3 linked regions of the Homo sapiens genome follow. The protein of the gene in region 3 purifies or fractionates together with the protein of the main gene of each other region. This does not show direct contact. Each region holds a gene or a part of one and is shown on either strand. Other genes may lie near its edges.

Region 1 (2,983 bases), on a different chromosome or scaffold from region 3:
TAATGTGAAGCCTGCCTAGCATTAATGTTCCTGGTGCTCAACGCATCTCTTCAGTTCTCATCCCATCGTGATAACCTGTGAGTGCAAGTAACTCCAGCCACGCCGGCTGGCAGCAGGGAAGCTGCCCCTGTGACAGGCCAGGCATGCCCGCTCCTCCTGCCTGAAAACCGGGTGCCTGTGGTGAGGAGGGGTAAGGTGGCAGGTTCAATTCAGCTCGTGCTGCACTTAAAACTTTCTACCATAAGAAAAACACATACTGTTGACCCTTAAACAACACAGGGTTTGAACCTGTGGGTCCACTTATATACATGGAGCTTTTCCAACCAAACATGGTTTATTTGCTGAATGTGAAACCCACGTATACGGAGGGCTGACTTTTAGTGTACGCAGGTTCCGTAGGGCCAAGTGCCAGACTTGAGTATGCAGATTTTCGCATACGTGGGGTATCCTGGAACCAATGTCCTGTGTATATTGAAGGATGATTCAAATACTTCCCAAGAGGTTGTGTCAAAATTCAGTAAAATTTGAAGAACTGCAAAATATTTCTCCATTACAAATTCTAACATCCTACACAGAGACCACCACCCCAACTGTTTTTTAAAAAGCAAACATAAATACAACACTTGGTTTTGAACCTTTAATAAAAGTAAAAAATGAATGCAAAAAGAACACAATGTTGAAAACTTAGTATGAATGTGAACCTCACTAGATGTTCAAATCTGGTAGAGTGCAAATTTTGTTCATACTATTTTACATTTTTACAAACTCAAATCACTTTGGTTCATATATTTTCTATAAACTATTGGCAAAAAAATCCTCAAATTTACATTCTTTTGGCTACATTATTTCTAACAGATATAGATTTACTTCCGGTTTCGGAGAGAAAGACTTATTGTGTGTGCGTGATCAAGTCTGTTTTAAAGATTCACTCGCTGCTTTCATCTAATAACTTCTGGTTTTTCATAAAATGCTGACATCTTCATTGGAAATTTTTTTCATGTAACTGTTTTCATTTTCAGAAAATATATAAGGGGGTCATTCCAAAGTTCAGAATGATCCTATTTTTTTAAAAAACAAAATTCCTGTAAAACAAATTAACTCCAGGAACTTAAAATTTACTCCAAGACATTTCCCTCAAAACAAAGCAAAAAACCCCAGCAAAGATCGTTACATCACAAAACCAAACACAAAGACCAGCGCTCACAGGCAAGTTCCTCTAAGCTTCCATTCTGCTGACTGGTGGCTTCCATTTAAAAGGAGTCTTTTAATCAAGCCACTTTCACAGAATTTAAAACAAACCAAACACATGTAAATTGCAAAATACAAAAAGGTAAATTTATAAGTAAAAATGACCAAACCCACAAAACTGGAGTATTTCGAAGGTTGAGGGTTCAGTGGAGGGTGTAACACGAAAGGAACTTCACAACTGAAAGAAATCATTGCCGAGTTTCCTCCAGGCAGCACTGAAATGAATGGAGAACCTTCTCTCGAACATCTCACACGTTAAAAAAAATAAATATTTAAGAGATACAAGGCTCAGATTGGTTTTCATATACATTGCACTTGAAGTTTAAGACCCAATACTTGCAAATTAGGTCTGGTATGGTCTATGCCATTAAATGAATACATTGTGCTCACCAATATCATTGACTAGAAACACCACACGTTTAATGCAGTGCCATATGCACTCTCCTTTTTACAAGGCAATCACAGATTGCAAATTCCATAGGGCTGTGGCAAAAAACAGTCATCTCTATTCTGTAGTAACAAACAAACAATTTTGGCTCACTAAGATTGAAATACATGGCAGACAGGTATTCATTCTTAGATGACTATGGATTTCGAAATAAACTTCATAAACTGAGGTGAAAATTCCAATATATCGCAGTGTGGGAACCAAGACTTTTCATTGCCTTTTGCTCAGTAAGATTGTCTACACAAACTGCCACGGGAGGAATGACAAGCAGTTGACCCACTGGTGATACACACACGTGTGACCATGTAAACACGCCACTGCAGGACGGACGAGCGTGACCGTGAAGCGTGGCCACGCCGCGACCCCACTTAGAGTGTGACCTCTCTATAATCACTGCTGCTTTTCTTGTTTTGTTTTTTTTTTTAAACACAGCCCTATTTTTAAAAATCTTTTGGATAAATATTATTCCTATTACACCATACTTCATGTTTGTTAAGCACCATCAACCTACCTCCTTTGGGCACTGACACAAAACTGCGGGTTGGTAATTGAGTCTTAGTTCAAGGCTTTGAAATATGGCAACTTGTTTTAATCACATGAATGAAATCGAATACTTGGGAAGCTGCCACCTGCCTGAACCCACGTAGCCTGGGCAGAATGCTCCAGGGCACAGACAGGCGCCAGTGCGGGCAGTCAAGGGAAGACTTCAGGGTAAGTCATCATTCTCCACCTCCCTATTCTAGACTAGGTGAAGAGTTTTTTCCAGGAGTCATTTGTACAGTCAGCCCGATCTAAATAGATTACTTAAGAAAAAAGATAATCTTTGTCATAATCCACAGTCAGATTTTCTTCCAAAATCTTCCTTGCTCTCAGAATCGGTGGTTTTGAAGACTCAATCACTATGGGGCTTTTCAGGAACACCCTATGTGTAGAAAGGAAAAAAAAAAGGAAAGAGAAAATTAGCACTAAATGTATAAATATTTTAATTACCAATTAAGTAGGTCCTAACATGGGAAAGATTGACACTTTCTTTGACTGAAGCAACAAGATTGAGAGGTGGGACATGTGCAGAGAACTGGAGACCGAGGCCAGCTCTCCCAGCTCCCCTGCACCGTCTTCATGGCTCTGGCCCCGTGAGCCACAGCTCTCACCTGCAAAATTAGGATAATTCTCTGCCTCAGGTGAAATTACGCTGCTGAGGCCCTTATATAAAGCCTGTTATATAAGTGTAAGATATTGGTGAAAGTTTAACTAAATTAATATCTATATAAAGGAAACACCCAATTT
Region 2 (7,961 bases), on a different chromosome or scaffold from region 3:
ATTGTGCCACTGCACTCCAGCCTGGCAACAGAGCTAGACTCCATCTCAAAACAAAAAAAAAAAAAAAAAAAAGTGAAACTATCTCAAAAAAAAGACTCAGGCCAAGACAGGTCTACACTTTCCCATCTTCTAAATTCAATTCAAAGGTCATCTAGAAGGCCAGTATGGCAAGGAAAAAACAAGTCTTCATCAAATCTAGTAGATCTAGATAAAATAAGATACAGGCCAGGCGTGGTGGCTCACACCTGTAATCCCAGCACTTTGGGAGGCCGAGGCGGGTGGATCATGAGGTCAGGAGATCAAGACCATCCTGGCTAACACGGTGAAACCCCGTCTCTACTAAAAATACAAAAAAAAAAAAAAATTAGCCGGGCACGGTGGCGGGTGCCTGTAGTCCCAGCTACTTGGGAGGCTGAGGCAGGAGAATGGCATGAACCCGGGAGGCGGAACTTGCAGTGAGCTGAGATCATGCCACTGCACTCCAGCCTGGGCGAAAGAACGAGACTCCATCTCAAAATAAAATATAAGATCCACATCTTGGTTGGGCGTGGTGGCTCACGCCTGTAATCCCAGCACTTTGGAAGGCCGAGACGGGCAGATCACGAGGTCAGGAGTTTGAGACCAGCCTGACCAACATGGTGAAACCCCATCTCTACTAAAAACACAAAAATTAGCCGGGCGTGATGGCGGGTGCCTGTTGTCCCAGCTACTCAGGAGGCTGAGGCAGGAAAATTGCTTGAGCCCGGGACACAGAGGTTGCAGTGAGCCAAGATCACACTACTGCACTCCAGCCTGGGTGACAGAACAAAACGCCATCTCAAAAAAAAAGATAAGATCCACATCTAATTTTATTGACACAGAAAATGTCAAGAACCCCAAATTTGGTTGGTTTGAAGAACATGTGAAGGGTTTGACTAGATGATGAATGTCAATATTAAATCAGCTGAAGTTTCATATACAAAATGAAGAGGAACAGCATTCAAACTTAGTTAAGACACAATTTCCTTGAGTGGCCAGGCATGGTAGTCATGCCTGTAATCCCAGCACTTTGGGAGGCCAAGGTGAGCAGATCGCTTGAGCCCAGGAATTCAAGACCAGCCTGGGCAACATGGTGAAACCCCATCTCTATAAAAAATGGAAAAATTAGCTGGGCATGGTGGTATATGCCTATAGTCCCAGCTACTCGGGAGGCTGAAGTGGGAGGGTCGCTTGAGCCCAGGAGGTCAAGGCTGCAGTGAGCTGTGATCATGCCATTGTGTTCCAGCCTGGGTGACAGAGTGAAAATGTGCCTTGAAATAAAATTTTCCTTTGAATACGGCTTAAGAAATATGGCCACTTAAAACTCTACCTTGAAAATAAATATAGATTTTATCTTATCTAGAGGTAGAGTGGGAAGTTTTCATTTGGTACATTAAATCTATAAGGCCATAAACAGGTAATATAAAAAGCTTTCATAATTCAATTTATATATAACATGAGAAGGAACTTCCAGGTGTTACTATGAATCTTCTATGTATAGTTACAGTCAATATACTTTATATAAGAGATAATTTTAATACCAATATAATCTAGATAACATTTTACTTTGTTATGTTATCATTGTTCTCTTGGGGAATAAATTTTTTCCTCTGAGGCTCTGGATTTGACATTGAATTTTGTGTGTACTAATTGACATGTGCCAGGGCAATGATGGACTGGAATCCACCCCCAAATCAAAGCATCATGGTAAATCTTGCTTATCCTTATAAAGTCAAATGATAGACATTTCCCATCACCTATTTCTATTCAACAAGAGCACCAGATTCAGTTAGCTAATCTGCTTCCAAAGAGTAGAACTGCATTGAGCTCAAATAATTTCAAAATACTGACTTTTTTTTATTTATTTATTTATTTTTTAGATGTGGTCTTGCTATGTTGCCCGGGCTGGTCTCTAACTCCTGGGCTCACACGATCCACCCACCTCGGCCTCCCAGCATGCTGGGATTACAGGCGTGAACCACCATACCCAGCCTATTTCTGCGTATGTTAAACATGCTTTACAATTTTAAAAATGAACTGTTTTGAAGGTAAAATTACAAATCTTGAAATTAAAAAAGCAAATATGTAAAGGAGCAAAAACTATAAATCAAACATTTGAGAAGAGAAAATTGGAGGCTAACTTGTATTAAATTCACAAAAACTTCTATACTTTCTGTAAATACTTTTTTAAAAAACTATAGATCAGAGGCTAGGCGCAGTGGTTCACGCCTGTAATCCTAGCACTTTGGGAGGCCGAGGCGAGTGGATCACTGAGGTCAGGCGTTCGAGACCAGCCTGACCAACATGGAGAAACCCCATCTCTACTGAAAATACAAAATTAACTGGGCGTGGTGACGCATGCCTGTAATCCCAGCTACTCGGGAGGCTGAGGCAGGAGAATCGCTTGAACCAGGGAGGCAGAGGTTGTGGTGAGCCGAGATTGCGCCATTGCACTCCAGCCTGAGCAAAAAGAGCAAAACTCAGTCTCACAACAAACAAAAAAACTATAGATCAGAATAACCACCTTTAGAACACTTTCGGTTATCAGTCAATATTTTTAGATAGAAGCTGGTAGTAAGCCTAAAGTGGGCTTAATTCTGCAGTAAACAACTGCCTCAACACATAGAAATCTTTTTTAAAATAGGCACTCTTGGCCGGGCGCGGTGGCTCATGCCTGTAATCCCAGCACTTTGGGAGGCCGAGGCGGGCGGATCACGAGGTCAGGAGATCGAGACCATCCTGGCTAACACGGTGAAACCCTGACTCTACTAAAAATACCAAAAATTAGCCGAGCGTGGTGGCGGGTGCGTGTAGTCCTAGCTACTCGGGAGGCTGAGGCAGGAGAATGGCGTGAACCCGGAAGCTGGAGGTTGCAGTGAGCCGAAATCGTGCCACTGCACTCCAGCCTGGGTGACATAGCAAGACTCCATCTCAAAAAAAAAAATAAAAAATAAATAAAATAAAATAAAATAGGCACTCTTGCGGGAGGTGGCAGCTCATGCCTATAATTGCAGAACTTTGGGAGGCCGAAGTGGGCAGATTGCTTGAGCCCAGGAGTTTGAGACCAGCCTGGGCAACATGCCGAAACCCCATCTCTACTAAAAACACAAAAAGTTAGCCGGGCGTGGTGGCACACACCTGTGGTCCCAGCTACTGGGGAGGCTGAGGTGGGAGAATCACCCAAGCCCAGAAGGTAGAGGCTGCAGTGAGCTGTGATCATGCCACTGCACTCCAGCCTGGGTGACAGAGTGAGACCCTGTCTCAAAATAATAATAATAATAATAATAATAATAGGCCCTCCTTGAAGTTTTTTGTTTGCACAGTCACACAGTGATGCTTAGATGTTCCAGTATCTAATATAGCCACAGTAGGCTGCAAGCAGTGGCTCATACCTGTAATCCCAACACTTTAGGAGGCTGAGGCAGGAGGATCACTTGAACCTAGGAGTTTGAGACCAGCCTGGCCAACATGGCAAAACCCCATGTCTAAGAAAATATATATTTTTAACTTTTTTAACAATATCAAAAATAAGAATCACATAAATAAACAGATTCTTCAAATTCTGAAAAGAGCCACAAAGCTTTATAAATTGTACAGGGGCATGAACTCGTAAGGTATTATAATTGCCTGGCACATAGTAGGCTCTCAATACATTTGCAAACTCCACACACACCTTACTTTCTTTTGCTTTATTTTTCTCTATTTATCTGCATTAACATGCTATGTAACACATAACTATACATTAACGTTTTACAAATTACAAATTTTTCTTGTTTTTTTTTTTTTTTTTTTTGAGACAGAGTCTCACTCTGTCGCCCAGGCTGGAGTGCAGTGGGCTCACTGCAACCTCCGCCTCCCAGGTTCAAGCCAGTCTCCTGCCTCAGCCTCCCAAGTAGCTGGGATTGTAGGCGCCCGCCACCACGCCCGGCTAATTTTTTATATTTTTAGTACAGACGGGGTTTCACCGTGTTAGCCAGGATGGTCTCGATCTCCTGACCTCGCAATCTGCCCACCTCGGCCTCCCAAAGTGCTGGGATTACAGGCGTGAGCCACCGCGCCTGGCCTTTTTTTTTTTTTTTTTTTTTTTTTTTTTCAGACGGAGTTTCGCTCTTGTTGCCCAGGCTGGAGTGCAATGGCTCAGTCTTGGCTCACTGCAACCTCCGCCTCCCGGGTTCAGGCGATTCTCCTGCCTCAGCCTCCCGAGTAGCTGGGATTACAGGTGCGTGCCACCACGCCCGGCTAATTGTTTGTATTTTTAGTGCAGACGGGGTTTCACCATATTGGTCAGGCTGGTCTCGAACTCGTGACGTCAGGTGATCCACCCGCCTCGGCCTCCTAGAGTGCTGGGATTACAGGCGTGAGCCACTGCGCCCAGCCCATTTTACAGACTTTTATTTTGTTCAGTTTCTTTATTGTCTTCCCAACGTCCCCCCACACACACTGCACTAAAATGCAAACTTCACGAAGGCAAGGAGGAACTTTTGCCTGTATTGTTCACCTCAGTGTCCCCAGAGCCTAGGTCAGTTGTTGGCATATTGAGGGACATTCAATAAATATTTAAGGAGTGAATAAACAATTGGATACCCAATAAATGCATGTATGAATAAACACATTCTTAGTTATTCGGAATATGAGGATTTGCGGAGAGTGGACAGCAGGGGATTGAGGAGACCGGCTGGGACTGGGAAATGGGCATTCGGGTCGCATGCCCACCGCAGTGGCCCAGAGCCCCTGTCCGGACCGCTAACAAGTTGCTTAGCAACCCGCCGCCCGGCCCTCGGCCACCGCTAGAGGGCGAGCGGGCGGGGAGACGTGCACGCGCGCGCGCGTGCGTGCAAGCGTGTGTGCGCGCGTGCGCGGCGCGGGCTTGGGAGGGAGCACGTCACTTCCTGTTGCCTTAGGGGAACGTGGCTTTCCCTGCAGAGCCGGTGTCTCCGCCTGCGTCCCTGCTGCAGCAACCGGAGCTGGAGTCGGATCCCGAACGCACCCTCGCCATGGACTCGGCCCTCAGCGATCCGCATAACGGCAGTGCCGAGGCAGGCGGCCCCACCAACAGCACTACGCGGCCGCCTTCCACGCCCGAGGGCATCGCGCTGGCCTACGGCAGCCTCCTGCTCATGGCGCTGCTGCCCATCTTCTTCGGCGCCCTGCGCTCCGTACGCTGCGCCCGCGGCAAGGTAGGGTCAGCGGGAAAACCGGGCACTTTCCACCCCCATACCGAACACGGCCGACATGGACCCTTCCTAGGCGGGACAGACACCTCTCCCCGGACACTGACTCTTCCCAGCCCTGATCACCACCGTTCCCTCTGTCTCGGGCCCACATTCCGGGGCTGGCATTTCCTACCCCGGGATCTGGGCACCGACCCCCGACCAGGGTATGATACCTTCCCCAATAGGAACTTGCTTCTGCTCCCGACCCGGACCCTGACACTTCCCTCCCTGTGCATCATGCCGCGGCTGGGAACGCTGTCAGCCCGTCCCCCACTGCGACTCGGGCACTGATTGTTCTGAGCCTGTTGGGCCCAGGCAGATCAGCCCCATCATGTATACCTGATGGATACTGGTCCTCACAACTTACTGAATGGTACAATTTCGTGTCATTCCCTGTTAGGAACCCTGCCTCAGCCCACCGCAGGGCCCTTTCTACCATCCAGACCCATCCCTAGACTCTGACTCCTGTCTCACTGGAATCTATGGCACCTTATGTGCTCACCTAGATCCCCCACACCTGGCCCTTGCCCCTGCCTCAAAAACAATGATCTCTTAGAGCCCAGTTTTTCACATCACTTTCTGGAACCATCCCAGTCAGCTGGCTCCTCAGAAGCTGGCATCTTGGTGCCTCTACTTTCCAACTAGGCATGGACGTCTTATTTTCCTGGTTTCCTCTCTTAACTACCATCCAACCTTGGACATGGCCTAGTCAAAACCTAGACCTTGTTCCTAACCTGTAACCCTTTTCCCACCCAGCCTTTGACCCTATCTCAAAGTAGCCCTTCTCCCCATACCCCCAAGACAATCCCCCCACCAAACTGGGCCTGTCTGCTGGGCCACTGTTGGCCCCTCTTGTGAGACTGGGCCAGACTCCATCCCTGGCCTTCCTCAACATCTGTCCTATTGGATAACTAGGAGGACTCCAGCACATTTCACCTTCTGCTTCTCCCTCCCCCTTCCCTGCCCCACTTCTTCCCTATATTAAGCCCTTTCTAGCCCGTTGTACCAATGACTTTTCACTTCCTGGCACCCTCTCCCTTCCTCCACAACCTCTTAATCTGCACCTTCCCGATGCTCCTCCCCCACCCAGACCTGAGGATGGACCTAAGTGGAAGTCTTGCCCAAAGAGGGCAGGCCCACAAAGCAGCTGCCACTTTTGAAACTGCTGAAGCTGAGGTTCTCAAAACACTACCCAACTTGAGCAGTAGCTGAGGCCTGCCATCTTCCTTCCCCAGGAGCAGAGAACTCACTACTGGCTCTGTATGCGATCAGATGCAAAGGAAAGTAGTTAGGCGGGGCTTAGGCTGAGAGACTCAAACATGACTCCATTTTCCTTTTTATTTGGCTTTTTCTAAGCTGAGTTCAGGTGATATTAAGCCTCTCTACTATGCCTGTCAGGTAGACACTTAGTGTAGAGAGCAGTTCTGAGATAACCCAGGACAGAGGAGGCGAAGGACAGCTGGCATAAGGCTAGGCAGCTTGATCTGAGCTGCTCTCCAAACTGAGTAATTCTCCCTGGCACCTTCTGTACATGGATCACTAATCTCTGCAGAAAACACCTTCCAGGCAACAGTATTTCCTGAACTTCCACCACTGTCAGGGGTAAGGGAGGATTGCTGCAAAGATGAGTAGGTCAGAGCCCTGTCACCAAGGAATTCGGGAGCGTAGGTGAAAGAATAATAACTAGATTGTGATTATACTACAAGCAATGCTACAAGGTTTAGGGAGAAAGATTGAGCACATCTGGGACAATGCAGGGAGGCTTTGTGCTAGAGGTAGGCCTGAGCCTTGACGTAGAGGTAGAATTTCAGCCAGGAGAAGGCATTCTAAGCAAAAGAAACCAGGTAAGCAGAGAGAGGTACGGAGGCAGGAGGCTACGAGGCAGTTCAGGAAATAGTGGAAGGTTTGGTGTGGCTGGAACAGAGGGTATGGATAGGAGAAAGCCTTAGCCTCTGAATACCTCTCCCAAGCATCTCCTGCAGGGCAGCAGGGTGTGGAGGACTGTATGAATTTACAAACAGGACCTGACCATTAAGAGCCTGCCACCACCAATGACCCAGATGCGGTAAAGCTTGCAAAACCTTGACGCCCTTTGATGCTCACAGCAACTGAGGTGGCAGGCAGAGCCAGTTTCATTATCCTCATTGTACAGGAAAAGAAACTGAGAGTCAAAGAAATGACTTCTGAAGATCACTCTGCCATTTAGGGGCAGAATCAGGTATGCCTAGTCCTCATCCAGGGCTCTCTCCTAACACAGGTACCTTTAAAGACAAGCAGCATTGACCTAGGGAAAGGACAGGGCAAATGACTCCCCTTCTACCCTGAGTCGTTTCCCTGGTCATGTGAAAAGGAGAGAGAAGAGTTAGTGTGGGGACCCAGTTTTGATTTCCCACCAGTGTTGGACCCCAAAACCAGTTGGGAGAGAGGGAATGTGAGGACAGAATCCCCAAGGGTCAAGGTGTCCATAACAGGCAGGGAAAATTGTGAAATCATGGAGAGAAAGAAGGTAGAGCCTCCAGGAGTATGTTGTGAAGAAGTAGCCTTGGGAGGAGCAGTCTCAGAGCAGCACCCATCACTGTCAGAGTCCTATATCCCAGACAGAAGCGAATATGACCCAGGCAGTAGCTGCACATTAAACATTGGTTTAAAGGGCCCTCAGCGAACAGGACTGGGTGCCTGCTGTGGGCTAGGCTCTGGGCTGGGTACCAGGAGTTCCGGGACAAAGAAGGC
Region 3 (7,125 bases):
AGCTCTTATTTCCTACTCCTTAACTCTGAGCATTCTCCAAAGGGTCCAAAATTCCATTTTTTTTCCTCCTAGTTTCCTTCGGACTTAGAAACATCTTCCAAGTTCCCTTTTTCCTGTATAATGCTGAATCTGTTTCTTAAAATAGTCAACTCTTTTTATTGTTCTTCACATTACAAAAGTAACACTCAGAAAACCAAGACATGTTTTTAGAAAATGGTAATTCTCCTTCCCCCACTCCATAGACACCATCTTTCTTTGTACTCTGACAGAAATGCATATTTTAAGTAGGATTACAATAAACACATTATTATCCAAGGTTTCAACAATGGGAATGACATCTGAATACTCACCTACTTTCACTCCTACAACTGCAAATCTCCAAAGTTCTGAAACTCGACTTGCCTTAAACTAGAATCAGCTTTTCCTTGTGATTTGCTATTTCAGTTGAAGGTACCATTATTGTTCTTTTAGAGATACTCCCAACCCAGCCCCACATGCTCAAACTTTGCCAATTAGTTGCCAAATTCTTCTAACACCTCTATCTCCCTTTTCTGTGACACCAATCAATCAGTCTGTCTCAAAAAACCCTCATCTTGTCCAAATCCATTTACAAGCCATCACCAAATTGCCTTTCTTCATTCCCTGCTCAAAATACTTCAGCGGCTCTGAAATTACTATCAACTAAAATCTACATTCTTGCTCCTGGCATTCAAGAACCCAATTTGCTTTACAGTAATATTCCTCCTAACACACACACATCAGTGCTCCAGACTTGGATTCCCCAAACACATTCCTTTCTCCACTATAGCTACAGCAGTGTTTACATTCTTTTTGCTTGGAATGATGTCCCCAACCTCCCAATCCCTGACTATTCAAATCCTACCTATCCTAGAAACCTACTTTCTTTGATAGAAACTGTTCTTTCAGCATACCTGCAGAACTTAGTGAAACATTTAACACTCATATATCACCTGATATTGTAGTCTGCAGTTATCTAAGTATAATCTACCCTATTACACATGTATCTATAACAGAAAGCAAAGATCCTACCCTGTCCATCTATGGATTCTACAATATTTTGTACAAAATAAGTACAATTAGTATTCATTAGGAAATGTCTGTCACATCTGGATGTTTTTAAAGGCAACCACAAAATATAGCCTGCTTGAAAAATAAAATCTATGTTTCAGACAATGAGAAACCATACCCTGGAGTACAGAAAAAGTGACAAACTCCAAATTAAAAATCCATCTTGGCTGGGTGTGGTGGCTCACAATGGTAATCCCAGCACTTTGGGAGGCTGAGGCGGGTGGATCACTTGAGGCCAGGAGTTCAAGACCATGTCAACATGGTGAAACCCTGTCTCTACCAAAAATATAAAAATATGCCAGGGTGGTAGCACGTGCCTGTACTCCCAGCTACTCAGGGGGTTGAGGTGGGAGAATCGCTTGAACCCGGGAGGCATTGCAGTTAGCTGAGATCGCACCACTGCATGCCAGCCTGGGTGACAGTGAGACCCTGTCTCAAAATACATAAATAAATAAATATTAAATAAAATAAAAATCCATCTATCCACCTTATTTCAGCAGGTAATCAAGACATTGCATATTATTACAGTAGACGCATTTCACAATCCACTGCACATATAAGCAAGGGCTAGTTCATTTAAGTGATGACTCTGTCCAGGGATTTAAAATGTATTCTGTGCCAAAATGTCAAGTCATCTGTGAAAAGGAAAACAAAAGGACACAATAAAGTAGAAGACATATAAACCTCTAAATACAAACCACCTGATTCCCCAAGAAAATGGGCCACTAATAATCCCCCAAAGAGTTGTGAGCTCAGAACAGGCTCTTTTAAATATATATATTTTTAATATATATATTTTTAAATATATATATATTTAAATAATATATATATATTTTTAATAGATATATTTTTAAATATATATATATTTAAATATATATATATATTTTTAATATATATATTTTTAAATATATATATATTTAAATAATATATATATATTATATATATATATATTTTTTTTTATATTTTTTTTAATGGAGTTTCGCTCCTGTTGCCCAGGCTGGAGTGCAATGGCGTGATCTTGGCTCACTGCAACCTCTGCCTCCCAGGTTCAAGCGATTCTTCTGCTTCAGCCTCCCAAGAAGCTGGGATTACAGGTATGTACCACCACTCCCAGCTAATTTTGCATTTTCAGTAGAGACAGGGTTTTTCCACGTTGGTCAGGCTGGTCTCAAACTCCTGACCTCAGGTGATCCACCCGCTTCGGCCTCCCAAACTACTGCGATTATAGGCGTGAGCCACTGCGCTCGGCCCTGAAAAGATTTTTTTATTAGAAACTTCTTCCATGGAAGGTAACAAGAAAATGGAATTAATTCAGCCTACCAGATGCCATATGTAATCTTACATTCTCTACATGGAAAACCACCTTATTTTCCTGAGACAAAACTTCAGAAACTTTAAAACAAATCTTCTAAGTTGGGTCAAAACCAAAACAAAATAACTCTAGTTCTACTTTATGCCACTTAGAGGGGAGAAAGTCAAGCAGGAACTGTAAATTATTTTTGTCAACTTGCTATTCACAAAGTAGTAAATTAATCTTCAGTAACTATTCATGAGCTTTGCCATAATTTTATAACTAATTTTTAAAATTCTAATAACTTTTTTCCTGAAGCTTGTTTTTACTACACACAAATGAAGAAATTATTTGGGTTTTAGAAACATTTCTAGTGAAAAAGTGCCATTTTGCTTTATGCAAATGTATCAAAGAAAAAAAGGGGAAGGCATCAGATAGACAAATAATGTAGTAAGACTACAACCTCAAAATTTGGATGTATCCCAGCAAGTAACAATCTGACAATACTCTATCCTGATTAAAATCACACCCCCCAAGATGTAATAGTGAGTTAACATTTCAAGAATAGTATATGTTTGTTTTAATTCCTACCCAAAGTTTGTAGGTATATGGGGTTCATAGATTTTCCTTTTATAGTCACGTTCCTACCTATGGAATTTGGGAAGAATCTGCTCTCATTTTAAAAACCAATATCCTAAGTAACAAGTCTCCAAAGTAATCATCTTTCTCATGGCCTTTGCAGAATAATATCAAAGTTTCACTGCATTTTTACATTAGACATGAAAGCCTTTCTTGGTATTTAAACTGTAGGTCTAAGAAAATATAAAAGTCCAGAGACAGTTTCTCATTAGGATTTGGAAGTGACTTGCACAAGTAATCAAGACTGTATATAAATGCTGCTTTATAAAAAATTTTGAGAACAGAATTTACTGAAATCACAACTCAGAGATCTCAGTCCAATTCTCCAGTGATTAAGAGAGTTCACTAGAGTTTTCAAGGTAGCCAAAAAGAGGCAGGTATCCAAATCAATTCAGGAACTTTGAAACTATATATGAACTCAACTCATGAAAGAGTTCAGGCCTTTTCAATTTGGATTACCAAAAACAGGCAAATAAAAACAAAAGAAAAAATAAAAACTTACTATACATGTTACATAACAAAGTGTTTCACTCTTTTATGTGTAAAGTCTATTCATACCCTTACCCTCTTTTGGAAACTTATGACTAAAAATCAGGGTACAAAACATAATATTTACAATTCTCCAAGTACCCGAAATACCTCTAAAACAAAAAGCAACCTGTGGAAAAACATTTCAATACCTGACAGAATAAATATGGAAAAGCACAGAAATAAATGTTACTACTACCTTACTCCCAAGGGAGCCTTCCGCAATGAAGTTTACAACAAAGTGTCTTGAAATGTTGTTAATCTGTTGGTATACTTGATAAATTATAAAGAAAACATTTCTATTGGATTCTCATTTTAGGTTGAAAAAAAACCTGGTATTCTAAGTATTAACACAAAATTAAACTTTTGCTTTTAAACTAAACTTATAATAAGTATGCTTTTATCAAAAATATATGAACATGGATTTTAAAAAGCCAAACCCTACAGAGAGGTGTTAAATGAAGAGTTAAAGCAAGTTTTTCTAGTTTGTCTTTCCCATCTGTGATATCATAAAAAAAATATTAATATTTGGTCTTTGTCCCATTTTCTGACATAGCTTCTAAAATCCTTGGAATCTCTGGAGTGATGACTGTTTTGTACAATAATCAGATGACTGGTGCCTGGGGGCCCCTAGATAGCTTCAGGATGGGGGCTAGGTAGCCAGGGGAATCAGCCCAGTGATTAAGGGTTATAACTTTGATTCCTACCCCCAGCCGCCACTTCTGGGAAGAAAGAAGCTGAAACTTGAGTCCATAAACCAATGACTAGTGATCTAATCAATCTTGCCTATTTAATGAACTTCCATAGAAGCCCAAAAGGACTGAGTTCTGTGAGCTCTCAGATAGCTGAACACTGAAGCTCCACGCCCCTTCTCCTCTTCTCTCCTTCTTTGTCTCACCTTGTACATCTCCTTCCATCGGGTTAATTCATCTGTGTCCTTTGTAATTGCCTTTATAATAAATGGGTAAATGTAAGTACAGTAGTTCCCCCTTACCCAAGATTTGACTTCCTTTTTTTTTTTTTTTTTTTTTTAGTGATGGAGTCTCGCTCTGTTGCCCAGGCTGGAGTGCAGTGGTGCGATCTTTTGATTAACATAGGTTTTTAACCTCAATATCATTCGGTTTATCAATCTTCATTATGTATTTGCTTTTATATATTTTTAAGGATTTCTTCCTTAATCTAAGATTGGAAAAATAAAATATTCCATATTTTTTTCTAAAAATTTAAAGTTCTGCATTTCATATTTACATATACATCTAGGTAAGAATACACTTAGAAATGACTATTTTTTTTTTTTAAGAGACAGGGTCTTGCTCTGTCACCCAGCCAGGCTGGAGTGCAGTTATGCAATCATAGCTCACTTGCAGCCTTGAACTCCTAGGCCCAAGCGATCTTCTCACCCCAGCCTCCTGAGTAAGATAGGACTACAGGCACCCACCACCAAGTATGGCTATTATTTTAAATATTTATTTTTGCAGAGACAGGGTCTCACTACACTGCTCAACCTAGAAGTGACTGTCTATATATTGACATAAGGTAGACATCTAGTATAATTTATTTCCAAAGGTGTAACAAAATGATCATTAATTCAACAGTCCATATTTACCTCAATGTACTTCAATTCTATCTCTGAAACACATTATTTCTATATATACATTGGTGTCTGTTTCTGGGCTATGTAATTATAAATAAGGCTAAGTACTAATCTATTTGTCTATCCCAATGGTTCTCAACCATGATTTGGCAATATCCAGGGACAGTTTTGGCTGTCACACTGGGGTGTGGGGGTGCAAGGTGCTACTGGCATCTAATGGGCAGGGGATAGTGATGCTGCTAAAAATCTTACAGTGCACAGGAGAGCTCCCATCCGCAAACAAAGAATTATCCTGTCCAAAATGTCAATACTGCCACTGTTGAGAAATCTCTGTCTATTCCTCTGCCAGTGATAATTACTTCGGCTTTGTTTTTTCACTTCAGAGGTTTTCTGAAGTCTTTTTCGGCACCAAAAATAGCTATCTCATTTCTTTCAAGAACTTTATTGCATGGCTAGACCTAATACAATGAACAGATTTGTATCAATACATATTTAGATTAAGTTTGTTGCTTTGTTATTTCCAGTAATGCTTGCCCATAGTCCTTAAGCAAACTATCTCTCTAGGCCAATTCCCTAGAATTGAAATTGTGAGTCAAAAGTTGTACGAGCCAGGCATCCCAGCTACTTGGGAGGCTGAGGCAGGAGAATCGCTTGAACCTGGGAGGTGGAGGTTGCAGTGTGCTGAGATCACGCCACTGCACTCCAGCCTTGGTGACAGAGTGAGACTGTCTCAAAAACAAAACAAAACACTGAGAAGTCAGTTGTAAATGACAGTTGATACTGCCAAATGGTTTTACACTGAAATTAAGAGTCTTCCGGGCCAGGCACGGTGGCTCACGCCTGTAATCCCAGCACTCTGGGAGGACGATGTGGGCAGATCACCTGAGGTCGGGAGTTGGAGAACAGCCTGACCAACATGGAGAAAACCTGTCTCTACTAAAAATAGAAAAAAATTTGCCGGGGGTGGTGGCGCTTGCCTGTAATCATCCTAGCTACTCGGGAGGCTGAGGCCGGAGAATCGCCCGAACCTGGGAGGTGGAAGTTGTGGTGAGCCGAGATCACGCCATTGCACTCCGGCCTGGGCAACAAGAGCAAACTCCGTCTCAAAAAAAAAAAAAAGTCTTCCAAAATTGTATAAATTTACCTATTTCAAAAAGGTAAATACCTTTGCAAAACTAATAAAACTTTGAACTCTTCACCAATCTGATAAATTTTTTTTGACTTTTTTTTTTTTTTTGAGACAGTCTCGCTCTATCGCCCAGGCTGGAGTGCAGTGGCGCGATCTTGGCTCACTGCAACCTCCACCTCCCCGATTCGAGAGATTCTCGTGCCTCAGCCTCCACAGTAGCTGGGACTATGGGCAGGAGTCACTGCACCCGGCTAATTTTTTGGTAGACACGGGTTGTGCCATTTGGCCAAGCTGGTGTCAAACTCCTGGCCTCAAGCAATCTGCCTGCCTCAGCCTCCCAAAGTGCTGGGATTATAGGCGTGAGCCACCGTAAGCGGTCTTGACAGTATTTAATTATAAACAAGGCTAGGTACTTTTTTTTTTCCCCCATAAAATCAAGCTACTGCAGGAAGGGCTAAATACTTTTTCTCTTGCTTATTGAACATCTGCATTTTGTTTATTGTGAATTGCTTGTCTTAGGCATTTTCCTAAGGGAGTATAAGTTTTTTCTTGTTTTGTTTTGTTTTTTTTTTTAGACAGAGTCTCACTCTATCCCCAGGCTGGAGTGCAGTGGAGCGATCTCGGCTCACTGCAACCTGCAACTCCCTGGTTCAAGCGATTCTCCTGCCTCAGCTTCCCTGGCAGGGTAAAACTCTTACTGGAACGTGAATCACTTATGATAGAAGTATTTTATCTCAGTTTGTCATTTAAGGATTCTTTTTTAAGCTTTGCCATAAAAAAGCTTTTTATTTTTATGTACTGAAATTTTTCAGATTTTTCCTTGGAACTTCTGGGTCTTCTGTTATGTTTAAAGCC

Evidence for each region.
Region 1: the proteins of RNF139 (region 3) and INSIG1 purify together in Homo sapiens (affinity purification with western blotting, with the first as the bait; 3 studies listed by BioGRID). This does not show direct contact.
Region 2: the proteins of RNF139 (region 3) and HM13 purify together in Homo sapiens (affinity purification with western blotting; 2 studies listed by BioGRID and IntAct, with this or other methods). This does not show direct contact.

What each region holds. Positions count from the first base shown.
Region 1 is NC_000007.14:155,307,876-155,310,858, reverse strand, and holds the end of INSIG1 (insulin-induced gene 1 protein), read right to left. Parts: intron 2,619-2,983; coding exon 2,589-2,618; coding exon of another isoform or gene 2,501-2,588; 3' UTR 624-2,500; downstream 1-623. UniProt on the Homo sapiens protein: Oxysterol-binding protein that mediates feedback control of cholesterol synthesis by controlling both endoplasmic reticulum to Golgi transport of SCAP and degradation of HMGCR.
Region 2 is NC_000020.11:31,509,540-31,517,500, forward strand, and holds the start of HM13 (signal peptide peptidase), read left to right. Parts: upstream 1-4,902; 5' UTR 4,903-5,012; coding exon 5,013-5,195; intron 5,196-7,961. UniProt on the Homo sapiens protein: Catalyzes intramembrane proteolysis of signal peptides that have been removed from precursors of secretory and membrane proteins, resulting in the release of the fragment from the ER membrane into the cytoplasm.
Region 3 is NC_000008.11:124,477,859-124,484,983, reverse strand, and holds part of RNF139 (E3 ubiquitin-protein ligase RNF139), read right to left. Parts: intron 1,725-7,125; exon of another isoform or gene 1,577-1,724; intron 1-1,576. UniProt on the Homo sapiens protein: E3-ubiquitin ligase; acts as a negative regulator of cell proliferation through mechanisms involving G2/M arrest and cell death.